Linked DNA regions of Homo sapiens: region 2 is linked to region 1. Evidence: fine-mapped QTL for protein levels in blood plasma. Region 1 holds a variant in brackets. A gene starts in the other region. All regions are shown on one strand. Distances are from middle to middle.

Region 1 (8,329 bases):
TTCCCTCCACAGCGTCCTCTCTTCTGCCACTCTGCCCCGGCCTTTGCTGTTCATCACCAACACTGTTGGCACAGTCTCCTAACGGGCCTCCCTCTTCCAGTTGCCCCAACTCCAACCCATCTTCCATATTGGCCGCTGGTTTAAACTTCTTAAATGTAGGGAAAACCTGTGTCCCCTCTCCTTAGCAAACTTTGGTAATTCCCCAGTACCTTACAAGTCTCCCCACATCGCCTCCTCGGTGAGGTCTTTTCCGATCCAACCCAAAAGTTCTACCTTGGCAGGGCGCATTGGCTCACACCTGTAATTTCAGCACTTTGGGAGGCCGAGGTGGGTGGATCATGAGGTCAGGAGTTTGACATCAGCCTGGCCAATATGGTGAAACCCCATCTCTACTAAAAGTACAAAAAAATTAGCTGGGTGTGGTGGTGCACACCTGTAGTCCCAGCTACTCAGGAGGCTGAGGCAGGAGAATCGCTTGAACCCAGGAGGCGGACGTTGCAGTGAGCCGAGATTGCGCAGCTGCACTCCAGCCTGGGTGACACAGCAAGACTCCGTCTCAAAAAAATAAAAAATAAAAGTTCTACCTCTGCTAAAGCACTACTCACAATAGGTCTGGTGGACACATCTGTTGCCCCATCAAGAGTGTGGCCTTCTCAATGTTGGGGCCATGTCTAACTTCCCTTTGCATTTCTAGCACAGAACATGGCTAGTTAAGTGAGTGTACAGTTCACTCAGGAGCCACAACCTGGTGGAAAGTCTAAGCGCTTCATGTGGTACCTGCTACATAGTAGGTGCTTAGTAAACATTAATAGTTATTAAATGAAAGCAAATGTACTTCCCAGATGCTGACTCCATGAGGGGCACGACGTGAACTGGGCACCTGGCGAGATTTTGGATAATGGGATTTTGCTTAACCACATTTACTCCCTCCCTCATTCCCCCATCAGATGCTTCTTCGGCATTCTATTTTTCATATGCAGATTCAGACAGAGGACAAGGTTGACCAAATTGGGAAAAATAGTTATCCTCTAGAGATCATGACGTTTTGGGCAGAGAATTTTCTTTTGAAATGAAAGATGATGCAGAAGCTTGGAATAAGAAACTAGACTGCAGTGCTACTCTGTTTGGAACCATGTGCAAGGCTCCCACCAGCCCGAGCAGCAGCACCTCTCTGGGGGAAGCCCTTACTGGAATGGGCCACTCCCTGGGCTGGCGCTGGGCACCCAGGCAGGCATTGGTACCACTAGACCCCTCTCTAACCTCCTGGAAAGCAGCAGGGAATGAGGCAAGGTAGATCCTGTTCTACTGTGGCTGCGGGCCCTGCCTAGCCTGGCCCATGCTTCCTACCCCATCCAGCAGGCCACTACTGGCCCCAGGGTCCTGGGGAGAGAAGAGGGCAGCTGCTCACACCAGAAACATCTAGCATGGCTTCTGGGAGCTGCCTCTGCACTGCCACTCTGTGGGAGACTGTGCTGGCTGGGGCATGGGCTTATAGGCCATGAGGATGGCACACCAGGCAAAGAAGTGTTCCCAACATAGGTAGGCAGGCTTCTGGGCATCAGTGGGAAGGGGTGGGGACACAAGAAGCCCATCTCTCTGTCCCGCTCCTGTGAGCTAACTTAGATCCCCATCAGGAGGGCAAGACCTACATTTGAGTCCCCCAAGTAGGAAGGCTGAGCTCCAACAAAGGACCATTAGCTTTTGTTCTGAAATGAAACAATGCAGAAATATCCTCCTGAGAACAGATCCTGAATCTAGAGTGGAGGATGTGTTAGCAATGAGACCTGTCTCCTTAAGGGGCCTCACCCTACCAACCCTTTGGGCCTCCCTCTCCAGCCTTCCTCAAGGGCCTGAGGCAGCCCCAGCTCCCTTCCCATCTATCCTTATTTCACACAAGCCCTTCGCATCTTAAGATCTTTCCCGCTGTTCCCAGTGGGACACAAATGGGGGTAACAACAGGTTCCAGAATCCTATACAGTTTTTCCATGTCTGGACTGTGGTCTGTGGTTACAGAGTTCCTTTGAGATACAAACTGGACGCCCCATTGAGCTTCTGCCCCATTTCTATTCCCAAGGGAGGTGCTCACTTCCTCCTATCTGGCCCAGTGTGCTGAGTCTGCCACTGTGAAGGCTATTTTCCCAGCACTTTGGACTGAATACACCCCGAGGCAGGGGATAGACACTCCTTATTCCCAAGTCGAACTTTTGCAATTTGGGACCTTCAGGCTGGGTGCACACATTGCTCCAAACCTCTGTGTCTTTCAAGCACATTTCCCTTTGGTAGGTCCTCTGAGATACTTGGTAACTATTTGCTTCAATCTCCCCATTTGCAAAATAGAGGCAATAGCCCTGTGTTGCCTAACCAGAGAGAGGTGACGTGAACGTAAGAGGTCAATCTGAGCTCTTGGTACAACCCGAGCATCATGGTAACGACATGGTGTTCTCCCAGAAAGACTTCAAACCTGGCCATGCTCTTCCTGCAGCTCAGAGAAGGCTGGCTCTGGACTACACTAAGCCTGTGTCCATCAAAAGAAGACAGCAAAAGAAAGATGCGCTCCAAGAGAAATCTTCTAGCATGGGGCTTCTCGAGCTTTAATGTATACATGATCACCTGCAGATCTTGTAAAAATGCAGATTCTGATTCAGGAAGTCTGCAATGGAGGAATTCTGTGGTTCTAATGAAATCCCAGGGGATGCCAAATGGAGCTGGTCTCTAGAACCTTCAGGATCTAGAACCTTCAGGAGCTCCTGGATGGTTTTATGATTTGACAGATGCTCCCCTCCGCCTTCCCGCACCTCCTCTCTTTCTCTTCCCTTTCTCCTTCCTTCCTCCATCACCACATTTCTATCTGGTCTTACCTAACCAGGGTTGAGAACATTCAAGGGAAGAGATACATATCGAAGTCCTACTGTGTGCCGAGCCCTGGCATGGTACGCTCTGCTTACATCCTCTCCTCTGTTTGGAGAGAGACATGTAAACGCGGTGAGCCAAGTCCAGGCTTGGAGAAGGCTGTGGGCACCAACTGTGGCCAGATGTGTGGGAGGGAGCTCAGGATGTTCGTCACCACATGGAAAGAGCCCGTCAGCTCAGAACACAGGAGAGGCTGCCCTTTCCCGAATCCCTGGACAGGCCTCTGGGCACTGCTAACTCCAGTCCCACCATGCACAAACCAACATCCCTCCCCATGCCCACTTTCTCCAGTTTGCTCTCTCCCTCTGGTCTAATTGGTTTCTTCTCACACAGTTCCATAGTGCTTATGGCATCAAAGGGAAGATACGTCTCCAGAGGCCCATGGACCAGAGTGCTGGAAAAGCTTGGGGCAGACAGGGGTCTCAAGTTGAAAGGTAAGGGTTTGAACTGGGGTTTAAACTGACCCCAAAACCAGAGAAGGCAAATGCCTGGCATGGAGGGTGCTGTCATCTTTTGCTGAGTTGAGAACATGCTTTGTACTAAACGTGGGTACAACCTAAGAATCCCCCACACAACTAGTGGTCTACTGGAATGGATGGGCAAGATGCCACCTGTTTACCACCCCTGCACTGCAGCAAATTTATTATAACTTGCCACCAGCCACTGAAAGAAAATTGCTATATTTGTTGACTCATTTGCTTGGAAAGTGGCCCTTTATTCAACAAAAGTATCATAAGAAAAGTGGCTTAGTCTCACCCTCCTACCCAATTCCTGCTATTCAGACTGGCCAGGGGTCCTGCATCTTCTTCAACATTCTAGCTGATGCCTAGCGTTTGTACAGTCCTTTGCAGCTTGCAAAACTCTTATTTGTTCCAGAAAACTAAAGCCCAGAGAACCTACATGGCTTGTCCAAGGCCAGGCAGCTTCGGTGGTGAAGCCTAGCACAGGCTTGCTGGCTGTGCTGGAAGAAGCCATCCAGGAGGGACATGTCAGCATGACACCCATTATCATCACAAAAACTAGGTGCAGGGAGAGTCCTCAGAGAGGCTGTATGGGCGGCAGAGAAGCTCCACGGGCAATAATGATAATGATCATTGTGGTTGCTATTCAATGTTCAGCCTTGCACTTTGCACAACATGTTATAATTATCTCACTTACTCATTAATAACCTGTGCAGCAGGTACTATTATTTCCATTTAAGATGAGGACACCAAGAATTTAACAGCCAAGCCACTTGCTTAAGGTTAGGACTTGGATCCTAATCTTCCTAACTCAAAGCTGGGCTTCTTAGTTATACACCATCCTCACTATGGAAAACATCAAAATCAGAAACCCATCATATGGGGCAATGAGAAAAATCAGAAGCAATGCAAACCCTTCAAACCAGCCAAAGGAGGACATAAGGAAAAGAGAAGTATCCTTTCCAGCCCAGTCCTGAAATCATTTTGGAGCCTCTGTCTTTTAAATTAAGATCCCGGTTGCCAAAAGCTGATGTATGTAAGGTGACCTAAGTTGAATGGCACTTTCCCGGTGGTGATAAATGCATGTTGCCTGCCAAGATGGGCTGAGTATAGACGTGGATTCCCATGCCCCTCGGATGCTCAAGCTGTGAACTGCAAGATGGAGAGTGCTGTGTGGGTTTCAGGGGTTTAGAGTTCTAATCTGGGGTGCACCATTTACTCCACACTCTTGGTCAAATTTCTTCACCTCTCAGAACTCTTTCTAGAGCCACAGAGTGATAGAGTGGGGAAGGAGATCTTGTAGATCAATGCCATCATTTGATGGATGGGAACACTGGGCTTCAGAGAGGGGCAGGGACTTGCTGGTTGTCCTAGGGGCAGCTCAAAGGTAGGCAGGTTCCTAGGAGGTCTCCTCCCTTACAGTTTGCCCCATTTCCTGCTGTGCATGGCTCCCCTGTCTACAACAAAGCCATCACCCTGCCTAGGTGGCAGTGAGGCTCAGGTGAGACCCTGCCTGCCCCATACAAACACATGTCAGGCACCATCAGTAGCTGAGCACAGAGCTCTTCCCAAGGGGCCACAGTGCAGTGTGGCTAGGCGGTACCTGGTGGGCGTGGGGGGCTGGCGATGGGGAGCCATGGAACGGGGTGGGGCAGCCGTCCTCTCATAGGGCTTTTGCTCAGGAGACTCATCATTGCTTTTCAGAGCAAATGGCATTCGTTGGCTTCAAAGGCAGCTTCCGGCCCATCTGGGTGACACTGGACACTGAGGATCACAAAGCCAAAATCTTCCAAGTTGTGCCCATCCCTGTGG[TGAA/T]GAAGAAGAAGTTGTGAGGACAGCTGCCGCCCGGTGCCACCTCGTGGTAGACTATGACGGTGACTCTTGGCAGCAGACCAGTGGGGGATGGCTGGGTCCCCCAGCCCCTGCCAGCAGCTGCCTGGGAAGGCCGTGTTTCAGCCCTGATGGGCCAAGGGAAGGCTATCAGAGACCCTGGTGCTGCCACCTGCCCCTACTCAAGTGTCTACCTGGAGCCCCTGGGGCGGTGCTGGCCAATGCTGGAAACATTCACTTTCCTGCAGCCTCTTGGGTGCTTCTCTCCTATCTGTGCCTCTTCAGTGGGGGTTTGGGGACCATATCAGGAGACCTGGGTTGTGCTGACAGCAAAGATCCACTTTGGCAGGAGCCCTGACCCAGCTAGGAGGTAGTCTGGAGGGCTGGTCATTCACAGATCCCCATGGTCTTCAGCAGACAAGTGAGGGTGGTAAATGTAGGAGAAAGAGCCTTGGCCTTAAGGAAATCTTTACTCCTGTAAGCAAGAGCCAACCTCACAGGATTAGGAGCTGGGGTAGAACTGGCTATCCTTGGGGAAGAGGCAAGCCCTGCCTCTGGCCGTGTCCACCTTTCAGGAGACTTTGAGTGGCAGGTTTGGACTTGGACTAGATGACTCTCAAAGGCCCTTTTAGTTCTGAGATTCCAGAAATCTGCTGCATTTCACATGGTACCTGGAACCCAACAGTTCATGGATATCCACTGATATCCATGATGCTGGGTGCCCCAGCGCACACGGGATGGAGAGGTGAGAACTAATGCCTAGCTTGAGGGGTCTGCAGTCCAGTAGGGCAGGCAGTCAGGTCCATGTGCACTGCAATGCCAGGTGGAGAAATCACAGAGAGGTAAAATGGAGGCCAGTGCCATTTCAGAGGGGAGGCTCAGGAAGGCTTCTTGCTTACAGGAATGAAGGCTGGGGGCATTTTGCTGGGGGGAGATGAGGCAGCCTCTGGAATGGCTCAGGGATTCAGCCCTCCCTGCCGCTGCCTGCTGAAGCTGGTGACTACGGGGTCGCCCTTTGCTCACGTCTCTCTGGCCCACTCATGATGGAGAAGTGTGGTCAGAGGGGAGCAATGGGCTTTGCTGCTTATGAGCACAGAGGAATTCAGTCCCCAGGCAGCCCTGCCTCTGACTCCAAGAGGGTGAAGTCCACAGAAGTGAGCTCCTGCCTTAGGGCCTCATTTGCTCTTCATCCAGGGAACTGAGCACAGGGGGCCTCCAGGAGACCCTAGATGTGCTCGTACTCCCTCGGCCTGGGATTTCAGAGCTGGAAATATAGAAAATATCTAGCCCAAAGCCTTCATTTTAACAGATGGGGAAAGTGAGCCCCCAAGATGGGAAAGAACCACACAGCTAAGGGAGGGCCTGGGGAGCCCCACCCTAGCCCTTGCTGCCACACCACATTGCCTCAACAACCGGCCCCAGAGTGCCCAGGCACTCCTGAGGTAGCTTCTGGAAATGGGGACAAGTCCCCTCGAAGGAAAGGAAATGACTAGAGTAGAATGACAGCTAGCAGATCTCTTCCCTCCTGCTCCCAGCGCACACAAACCCGCCCTCCCCTTGGTGTTGGCGGTCCCTGTGGCCTTCACTTTGTTCACTACCTGTCAGCCCAGCCTGGGTGCACAGTAGCTGCAACTCCCCATTGGTGCTACCTGGCTCTCCTGTCTCTGCAGCTCTACAGGTGAGGCCCAGCAGAGGGAGTAGGGCTCGCCATGTTTCTGGTGAGCCAATTTGGCTGATCTTGGGTGTCTGAACAGCTATTGGGTCCACCCCAGTCCCTTTCAGCTGCTGCTTAATGCCCTGCTCTCTCCCTGGCCCACCTTATAGAGAGCCCAAAGAGCTCCTGTAAGAGGGAGAACTCTATCTGTGGTTTATAATCTTGCACGAGGCACCAGAGTCTCCCTGGGTCTTGTGATGAACTACATTTATCCCCTTTCCTGCCCCAACCACAAACTCTTTCCTTCAAAGAGGGCCTGCCTGGCTCCCTCCACCCAACTGCACCCATGAGACTCGGTCCAAGAGTCCATTCCCCAGGTGGGAGCCAACTGTCAGGGAGGTCTTTCCCACCAAACATCTTTCAGCTGCTGGGAGGTGACCATAGGGCTCTGCTTTTAAAGATATGGCTGCTTCAAAGGCCAGAGTCACAGGAAGGACTTCTTCCAGGGAGATTAGTGGTGATGGAGAGGAGAGTTAAAATGACCTCATGTCCTTCTTGTCCACGGTTTTGTTGAGTTTTCACTCTTCTAATGCAAGGGTCTCACACTGTGAACCACTTAGGATGTGATCACTTTCAGGTGGCCAGGAATGTTGAATGTCTTTGGCTCAGTTCATTTAAAAAAGATATCTATTTGAAAGTTCTCAGAGTTGTACATATGTTTCACAGTACAGGATCTGTACATAAAAGTTTCTTTCCTAAACCATTCACCAAGAGCCAATATCTAGGCATTTTCTTGGTAGCACAAATTTTCTTATTGCTTAGAAAATTGTCCTCCTTGTTATTTCTGTTTGTAAGACTTAAGTGAGTTAGGTCTTTAAGGAAAGCAACGCTCCTCTGAAATGCTTGTCTTTTTTCTGTTGCCGAAATAGCTGGTCCTTTTTCGGGAGTTAGATGTATAGAGTGTTTGTATGTAAACATTTCTTGTAGGCATCACCATGAACAAAGATATATTTTCTATTTATTTATTATATGTGCACTTCAAGAAGTCACTGTCAGAGAAATAAAGAATTGTCTTAAATGTCATGATTGGAGATGTCCTTTGCATTGCTTGGAAGGGGTGTACCTAGAGCCAAGGAAATTGGCTCTGGTTTGGAAAAATTTTGCTGTTATTATAGTAAACATACAAAGGATGTCATCATCTTGTCTGTTTGTTTCATTTTCTATTAAAATGGGCTTCATTTTATCTAGGGATAATAACTTATCTAAGGATAACCTAAGATAAACAGTTATCTAAGGATAATAAGGCTGATGAAATCACCCCATGTGTCTGCCTTACTTCCATGGCCTTATTCCCAAGAGCTAGTCATATGTCAAGATCCTACCTTGCCTTGCCCCAAGGCGGGGTGTCCATAAGAGCAGGTGGAGATGGTTCAAAGAAAGAGAAGATATCATTCATATGGCTGGCCATGTCCAG
Region 2 (8,329 bases), 7.9 Mb after region 1:
TAATTCACTCACGGTTCTGCAGGCTCTACAGGTAGCATGACTGGGAAGGCCTCAGGAAACTTACAGTCATAGTGGAAGGCGAAGGGGAAGCAAGCACAGCTGACCATTGCAGATCAGGAGAGAGCGTGCAGGGGGAGGTGCTACACGCTTTTAAACCATCAGATCTTGTGAGAACTCACTCACTATCACGAGAACAGCCAGGGGGAAATCCACCCCCACGATCCAATCACCTTCCACCAGGTCCCTCCCCCAACACTGGGAATTACAATTCAACATGAGTTTTGGGTGGGGACACAGAGCTAAACCATATCAGGCAGCTTTCTAAACATTCCTGTCTTCAGTTTCTTCATCTGTGAAATGGAGTTAGTGAGACTCCCTACCTCATAGGGTGATTGTGAGGTCTGTTGAAGCGCATAGCACAAGGCCTGGTAGGCAGTAAGAGCTCAATAAGTGTTACCCTAAAGGGAAGAAAATCCTGACATATGCCGCAATATGACTGAACCTGGAAGACATGATGCTAAGTGACTAAGCCAATCGCAAAAAGACAAATTTGGCGCTAATCCACTTACATAAGGTACTGACAGTAGTTAAATTCATAGAGACACAAAGTAGAATGGTGGTGGCTACGGGCAGAGGGTAGGGGTAATTAGGAATTATTATTAAATGGGTACATAGTTTTCATTGCAGAAGATAAAAAAAGTTTTGAAGATGGATAGTAGTGATGATTATATAACAATGTGAATGTACTTAAAGGCACTGAACTGTATGCTTAAAATGGTTTAAATGATGAATTTTATATTATGTATATTTTACTACAATAAATAAGTAAATAAATATGGCCATAATAATGAGGCTGTGTCAGCCCATGGAGGAACTGGCATTCCATTTTTTTGAACTTGAGAATTTGAGACTAGATAGAGTACTCTCAGCATTTTGGAAATGCCTGTTGGTAATGTATTTGGTAGAAGACTATTTTAAGACTGTAATGCTAACAAGTAAATGTCCTAAGAATAAAAGGTAACCCAGCTAAGTACTGATTTTTTTCCTTACATATTCTTCATTTTCTCCCCTTAAAAAAATATGCCCTAAAAAAAAAATACAGCAATAACAACCACTAAAATGTCAGGAAGACTATTCCCCCGCACTATAATATCAAATGAGTGGCAAGTTTTGTGGGGAAAAGTCATGCCCACATCTTAGCAGATCATTTTTAAGCTATGGGGATGCTGCCTGCACCTCTTCTATTTCAATTCTAGCAAATGTTCATGAGATATCATTTCTGCTTATTTTATAAGTGTATATTCTGTATCTATACCATCATGTGTGGAAATCTGGGACAACAATTTTTCTGAATAATCTAATATTTACCACTGAAAGAAACTAAAAATATCAAGCCCAATGTGACAAAGGTTGAGAAGCCAGTCCCAAAAGACTCTAATGGCTGGAATAAGGAAAAGAATAGAGAAGAGCCAGCTACGATCTGGAGTGCGGGAGCCCCTTAGGGTTCGGGGTCAGGGAGAGAAGGTGAGCAGGATCGCATGAGCCTCAGGGGCTGGGGCTGCCAGGAAGTACAAAGCCTAAATCCTCCGACTTCTCTTCTTATTCCAGACTTGCTTGGAAAAAGCTGTTGATGATGATGATGATGATGATGGTGGTGGTGGTGGTTGTGATGATGGTGGTGGGATGGATGCTGATGATGATGGTGATACGTAACATTCCACTCAGCATCACTCACTGAGTATTCTCAATGATAAAAAAAAAAACACTAGTGAGTAATGAATAAAATGCTTGCCATAATTTCCTCTTTTATAAATGGTAGGGTTTTACTAAAAATAAGAATCTGCTATGAATTCAGAAAAAAAAAATTGAAACTGAAGCTTTAAGAGAGTTTCCTTAAACGTGCCCTTCAATTTCTATGTCTTTGGTGACACAGCACTTTCCCGTTACTGTATGTCATTATTCCACACAGACCCGTGGAGGCTTGTGAGTGTTTCATTAACTGTCTCCATGTTCTTTATTATAACATTTCCCTCCTACTTTGCCACTAGTACAGTGTTAAAGTAATAAAACAGCACTTTTCAAGTGTTCCACTAGTTCTCACTAGACTCCACTCCCTGGCCCAGTTCTGCTATAAGAAGGCTTTTCTATATCATGTTTCTATGGCCCTTTGCTTCCAAAAAGGATCACAACGTTCTCTACACATATTACATATAGTATTCATTGTTGCCACACTCCTATGAGGTGGGTATTTTTAGCTTCTTTTACAAACACAGAAAACAGCACACAGGAGAGAATGTACTTACTCAGGCACACCAAATTGTGGGGGCTAGGGGGAAGGAAGAAAATTAACCATCCTTGCACTTTGAGCCAGATCAGTTACTAGGGGCTGACATTCCATATCTTATTTTAATTCTCACAACAATTCCATAAGATAGCTCCATTTTACAGATGTGAAACCAAAATCCAGAGAGGTTAAGAAACTCACCCAAGGTTCCCATGCCAGACCTGGGATTCACATCCAGTGCTCCCGATTACACAGGGAATCTCCTTGCTCCACAGCTCTCTTTGTTGCTTGAGATACACAGGAATCCCTTTCACGGGGGCCCGCATGGAAACAGTCTTCATTTTAATTGCCTGCAAGATTAAATATCAAGCAACAGTGAGATGTAGTTCTGAAACTCAACGATGTTTGGCCATACCGGTAGGAGCAGAATATCCAAATGGTTAGAGAAAAGAGTTGTCCTGGCTCCCCTCTAATCAGTCCACACCTGGGCTTGTGCATCTAATGCCGGGCATTGCATTTTTGAGGGGCATCCACAAACAAGGTTCGCAGAGAGTGAGGAATCCAGAAGCAAACTCCAGAAGAACACTCCCTTGGGAAACAGTCAAAGACCCTGTGAGGAGAGACATGAAGGGTGATGTGAGAACCCTCCTGCACTAACTGGAGGCTGCCCCTGTTGAAATGGGGGCAGACTGTGTTGCTCTAGAGAGCAGAATTGGGCCACTCACTTGTAAAAGAGTTTGGAATGAATGCTTCAGAGGAATTCTGCAAGCACCTTATATTGGGACTTAGCAAGGTACCTTCATGGTGTCCCCATGTATGGGACAGAAATAAGCACTCCATGGTAATACAGTCAGATGGATGGGGGGACTGGCCATGCTCTATGAGTTAGTTTAATGGAGTGTAGAAGCCAGCCTCCAAGATGCCCCCAGTGATCCCCATCCCCTGGTATTCACATCCTGTATGACCCTCCCACACTAGTTCAGGGCTGGCCCTGTGTGGGACTTCCAAAGCTATGACACAGAAGCACTGCACTCCCTGTGTCACTCACTGTGGTGGAAGCCAGCTGCCATGTCATGAGGACACTCAAGCAGCTCCATCGGGAGGCCCTATGGAGATGAAATGAGGTCACTGGCCAGCAGCCAGCACCAATTCACCAATCACGTGAGCGACCCACCTTGGACATGGATCCTCAAGCCCCAGTCAAGCTTTCAGCTAACTGCAGCTGTAACTGACATCTGACTACAACTTCAAGAGCTAGTCCAGGCCAGAACTGCCTGGCGAAGTTTCTCCCAAATTCCCGATCCATAGAAACCATGAGAGATATTAAATAACTATTGTTTTAAGACACTCAGTTTTGAGGTGATTTGTTACACAGCCATTATAACTGGAATATCGGATTATGTCGTTCATTCCAGGGGGGCTGTCTCTAGTGCTCTGCTCTAGAACTCAGCCCTAATCTCCGTCCCAGGCAATATTTTTATGAGCAGCCTGAATGAAAACATAGAAGTGGCACACTAGTTAGCTTTGTAGAATGTCTGCTGCTAAGAGGAATGGCAAACACACAGAATAATAGAGTCAGAATCCAAGATGATCTGAAGTAGTAAACTGAATTAGTTAGTGTAATGTTTAAAAGAAGCAAAAATGAAGCCCCACACTTGGATTGGAAAAACCCATTGTACCAGGATAAGCCAAAGGAGATGCTAGGTGGCAGAAGCACTGTGAAAAGGAAGTCTGAGCTGGCTGCAGGCTCCAAATGAGTCATGATGAGGCTGTCATAAAAGCACATAAATGTTGGCTGCATTACCAGAAGCACAGGACCCAGGTTATTGAGGTGAGCTCTCCTCTGGACCCAATCCAAAAGGGAGAAGGGAGAGACTTGAGATCACTGATTCCAAACAGAAAGGTTTATCACGTGGCAGGAGGTCCTGGGACAGGTTAGGGTTGGGGGGATGGAAATGGGCCTGTCTTGTTCACTGCTGAATCCACAGTATTGGGCATGAGCTTCTGTGAAAGCTGAAAGCTGCCTAAATACAAGAACCACGTGAAAAAAATGGATGTGGCCTCAGAAGGGAGTCAAACTCATGGCCACATCCAAGCAGAGTCTGATGTCCTACTTGAGGGAAACATCATGGACAGGACTGACATACTCTATGGAGGGGTGTCCTTAAAGTTCTCCAAGAGCTCTTCCCAGCTCTGAGATTCTCTTATTCTGTGATTTGTGATTGAATGAGTAGAACCTGCTGAATGATGTCAGCACAGTGCTTCTCAAACTTCAGCAGGCATATACAACACGGGAGGGATCTTGTTAAAATGCAGATTGTGAGTCAGTAGGTCTGGGGAACCTGGCATTCTGCATTTTGAATAAGCTTCCAGGTGACACTGCCAGTCTATAGAACATACTCTGAGCAGCAAGAGGTTAGAAATTGCCAGTTTACAGCAGACTGCATCGGGCAGCCTGGAAAAGGCATTAGGCAACTGTAAAGTATTCTAGCAGAAGAGGAGATGACCAGCTTCAGAAATATTACACTGGAACAGAGCTCCTGAGTTGGACAGGAAGAGCCTGTGTATGCCACCAAGGGCCTTCTGACACGCATGTCCTTTGACTCTCTGAATACTGTCTTTAAAGTGTCCAAATGCGTTGCCATTATCCTGGGTTTTTTGTATCCTTTAGGGCTAGGGAGTGTGAATTCATACCAGCCTGTACTCCAATCCCATTCACTACCTTGATGGCCTCTGAGTCTTGGTTTCTTAGTGTGTAAATGGGAATGGCATCCATCTGAGAGGCTGCTGTACCAAGCAGCATCTGACACATAATAGGTGCCCAATATATGTTTCTTAGACTCATTACAAAACCAGATGATCAATAAACATTTGTTCCCTTCAATACAAAGATAAATCGCCTAATTAATATTTGCCCTTGACTTGTTCTTCATTAACCCCACCTGCCCTAGGATGAATGTTGACATGAACCCATTTTACAAATGAGAGCAATTTGTTCTCCCACAAGGCATCAGGTAAACACAGGCATGAGAATCCATGACCTCGTTGGAATTTCAGGGACTGTTTTTTTCCCAGAGGGTCATTTCTCCCTGTTCCAGGCATTGAGGCCAGTAACTATTAAGATTTCATCTCTTTTTTTTTTTTTGAGACGGAGTCTTGCTCTGTCGCCCAGCCTGGAGTGCAGTGGCGCCGTCTCAGCTCACTGCAAGCTCCGCCTCCCGGGTTCACGCCATTCTCCTGCCTCAGCCTCCTGAGTAGCTGGGACTACAGGCGCCCGCCGCCACGCCCGGCTAATTTTTTTGTATTTTTAGTAGAGATGGGGTTTCACCGTGTTAGCCAGGATGGTCTCCATCTCCTGACCTCGTGATCCGCCCGCCTCGGCCTCCCAAAGTGCTGGGATTACAGGCGTGAGCCACTGCGCCCGGCCTCATCTCATTTCTTTATCTGTGAGAGAAGCCACTATCACCCCCTAAGGGGCTTCGGTCACCAGCATTTTGTCTGTGTCCTAAATGCTTCAAGACTTACAGACCTGACTCAATACGCTCAGGTAGAAAAAGGGTGAAATCAAGAATGGCCAACCACTGGAACACTTTAGCCATTGCTCTGAGAGGTGGGTGGATAGAGTGGGCACTATGCTCCCTCCGACGGGGCTTCACTGCCCTGGACAGGGGAGAGACAGGCGGCTCACAGAGCATGTGCTGGGCCAGGGCCAGTCCCGCCCCCAGGCAGAGATGGCCAGTAAAATAACCACATAATTCCAGTGGAGTCGCCCTGGGGAAACCGAGGCACTTCAGTTCCTTTTCATCAAGGAACTGATTAAAGTGTGGTCTATTATCTCTGTAGTGGGGAGTCCCGAAAGATTCCACTTCTTCCTCTTCTTGCCCAATGAGAGGGTCAGGAAGCTTCCACCACCATCCTGACTGTGGCCACCACATCCTGGTGTGAAGCACCACCAGCTTCCTCCACAAGAACTCTGAAGGTCACCAGCCAGCTTGAGTCCTCCGAAGGTGCTGTGGCTCAACCAGCAGCCTGTGTAGCAGAGAGCACAAGACCTGGGACTCGAACTCAGTCCCACCTTCAAGAGGGATCTCCACCACTTTCTGAGCCTCAGTTTTCACATCTTTGGTTAGGGGCAGGTGGGAAGTTGCCATATTTACCTTGTTGGGCTCTTTGGAAAAATTAAATGAAATGTTAATGTATGTTACACAACGGGCTCATAGGAGGGATTCAAAAGCTGCTAGTTCTTTTTCTCCTTTTCCTGAAAACGGTATTAAAGAGTACTGTAGAGACACTGGAGAATTCCTGCTTCATATGAGATGTCCTTGGTCTCTCCCGGGGAATTTGAAGACCCAGAGACTCGCAGCTCCCCGTGAGCCTCCCCGCTGACGCCTTACCTCCCCCTCTCCACCATCCCCTGCCATCCCGGTGTACGCCACCCCCAAAAAAACTTTCAGCCAGCTCCTCGGTGAGGGTCGTTCCAAATCGTGGCCGACAGTAGCGGGCTGCACCCTCCTTAGATCGCGTCGTGGCCAGCCTCAGCTGCAGAACCCCGCCGGGCGCCCGGGAGCCCTGTCCCGCCGCGGCGGCCTCAGAGTCCGGGCACTTGGGGATTCTCTGAGGGTGCAGCCCTCCTGGGCCCCTCCGACTGCGGAGCTGCCGACCGCAATGCAGATGCGGGCCCTCCAGCCCTTCTCGCGCCGCCTTCCTCCCGCCAGCCCCGGAGCTGCCGGGTCCGCGCCGCCCCGGGGAGCGCTCCTCTCCCGCCCTGAGCGCAGGCCGGCTTCCCCATCGGCGCGCCGGTCCGGAGCCAGGGTCCAGCGCGCTCCAGACGCCTCTGCCTTCCCCTCCCCCTGTCGGCCGCCCCTCGGTCCCTGGGGGTGGGGTTTCCCTTTGCGCTCGCCCCCTCCCGCCCCCACCCCTCACGGGCCCTCCCCTCCCCCGCCCGTCCCTATGTATGTGTCACAGCGCGCCATGCCCGCCCGCCCGCCCACCTACCTCCCCGCCGCTCCAGAGGGGGCTCGCAGAGCTGAGGACGCGCGCAGCGCTGCTCAAGGTCTCTCTCTCTCAGCACCCTCGCCGGCCGGCGTCTGACGCGGGTGCCAGGGTCTCCGGGCACCTTTCAGTGTCCATTCCCTCAGCCAGCCAGGACTCCGCAACCCAGCAGTTGCCGCTGCGGCCACAGCCCGAGGGGACCTGCGGACAGGACGCCGGCAGGAGGAGGGGTGCGCAGCGCCCGCGCAGAGCGTCTCCCTCGCTACGCAGCGAGACCCGGGCCTCCCGGCCCCAGGAGCCCCCAGCTGCCTCGCCAGGTGTGTGGGACTGAAGTTCTTGGAGAAGGGAGTCCAACTCTTCAAGGTAACTGTCTCCTTCCCTCCAGAGCGAGGCTCTCCCAGGGCGCCCGGCGAGCCAGGAACGGGACTGAGACTGCACGCCCCGGGGCTGGGGGCTGCACTGCCTTGGTCTCCGCCCTAGAGCTATGTGTGCCGGGGGCGCAGCACATCCACCGGCTGCGTCCGCGGTGGAGTTGAGCAAACTTTTTGGCTGTTGCAGACTCAGTGAATGGGGCAAAGGAACACGTGAGGAGGGGCACTTGTCTCCTAGTCCGCCAGGATGAAGGAACAAGGGAGCCTTTTCTCCAAACACCTAGGTGATTTTAAATCCTAGGGTCTGGAAAGACCCATGGTTGACAGAGTAGCAGCTTCAGAGTCAAGGGAATGTGGGTTCAAATCCCCGAGGTGCTACTTTTGAGCTGGAAGGTGTGCTTCACCTTCCTGAGCCTTGGCCTGCCGTCTGTCAGCTGAGAGGGAAAAGGCCTTCGCGGGGTCTGGAAGAATAAATGAAATCATATGGACACTATGTCAGGGACACAGCGGGTCCTAAGCCGAGGCTAGATAGTCCATCCTTGGCCACTTGGCTTACTCCAGGGACCAGAGTGCCTGAAGAGTCTGCCCAGGGGAGAGTGGCAGAACCTGGGACAGAGCTACTGAACTGCCAGCAGGGGAGAGGAGAGCAGTGCCCTGAACACACGGGTGTCCAACCAAGAAG

Direction of the effects. Positions count from the first base shown, and alleles are read on the strand shown. Strength reflects both the effect of a copy and how common the allele is.
In carriers of allele TGAA in region 1, the plasma level of the protein whose gene starts at base 7,266 in region 2 tends to be lower than with T alone (weak association).

What was found. PIP is the posterior inclusion probability: the model's chance that the variant is causal. The UK Biobank Pharma Proteomics Project read protein levels with antibody pairs (Olink). The fine-mapping took linkage between variants from a reference panel, not from the people measured, so its PIPs are less certain.
Region 2: ACAN starts here. The variant in region 1 is fine-mapped to the plasma level of the ACAN protein (UK Biobank, PIP above 0.99).

What each region holds. Positions count from the first base shown.
Region 1 is chr15:80,943,722-80,952,050 of GRCh38, forward strand. It overlaps CEMIP (cell migration inducing hyaluronidase 1), which reads left to right. Exons shown (of 30, transcript NM_001293298.2): 29 at 3,244-3,344; 30 at 5,076-8,050. The coding sequence ends at 5,203. It also overlaps a transcript of MESD not described here. Among named protein-coding and RNA genes, the nearest start is that of MESD, 42 kb to the right of the region's middle. The variant TGAA/T (reference allele first, on the strand shown) is at 5,184.
Region 2 is chr15:88,796,171-88,804,499 of GRCh38, forward strand. ACAN (aggrecan) reads left to right here and starts at 7,266. Exons shown (of 19, transcript NM_001369268.1): 1 at 7,266-7,639. It overlaps LOC105370960 (a long non-coding RNA gene), which reads right to left and starts at 7,348. Exons shown (of 3, transcript XR_001751648.1): 1 at 7,280-7,348; 2 at 2,486-2,634; 3 at 292-1,734.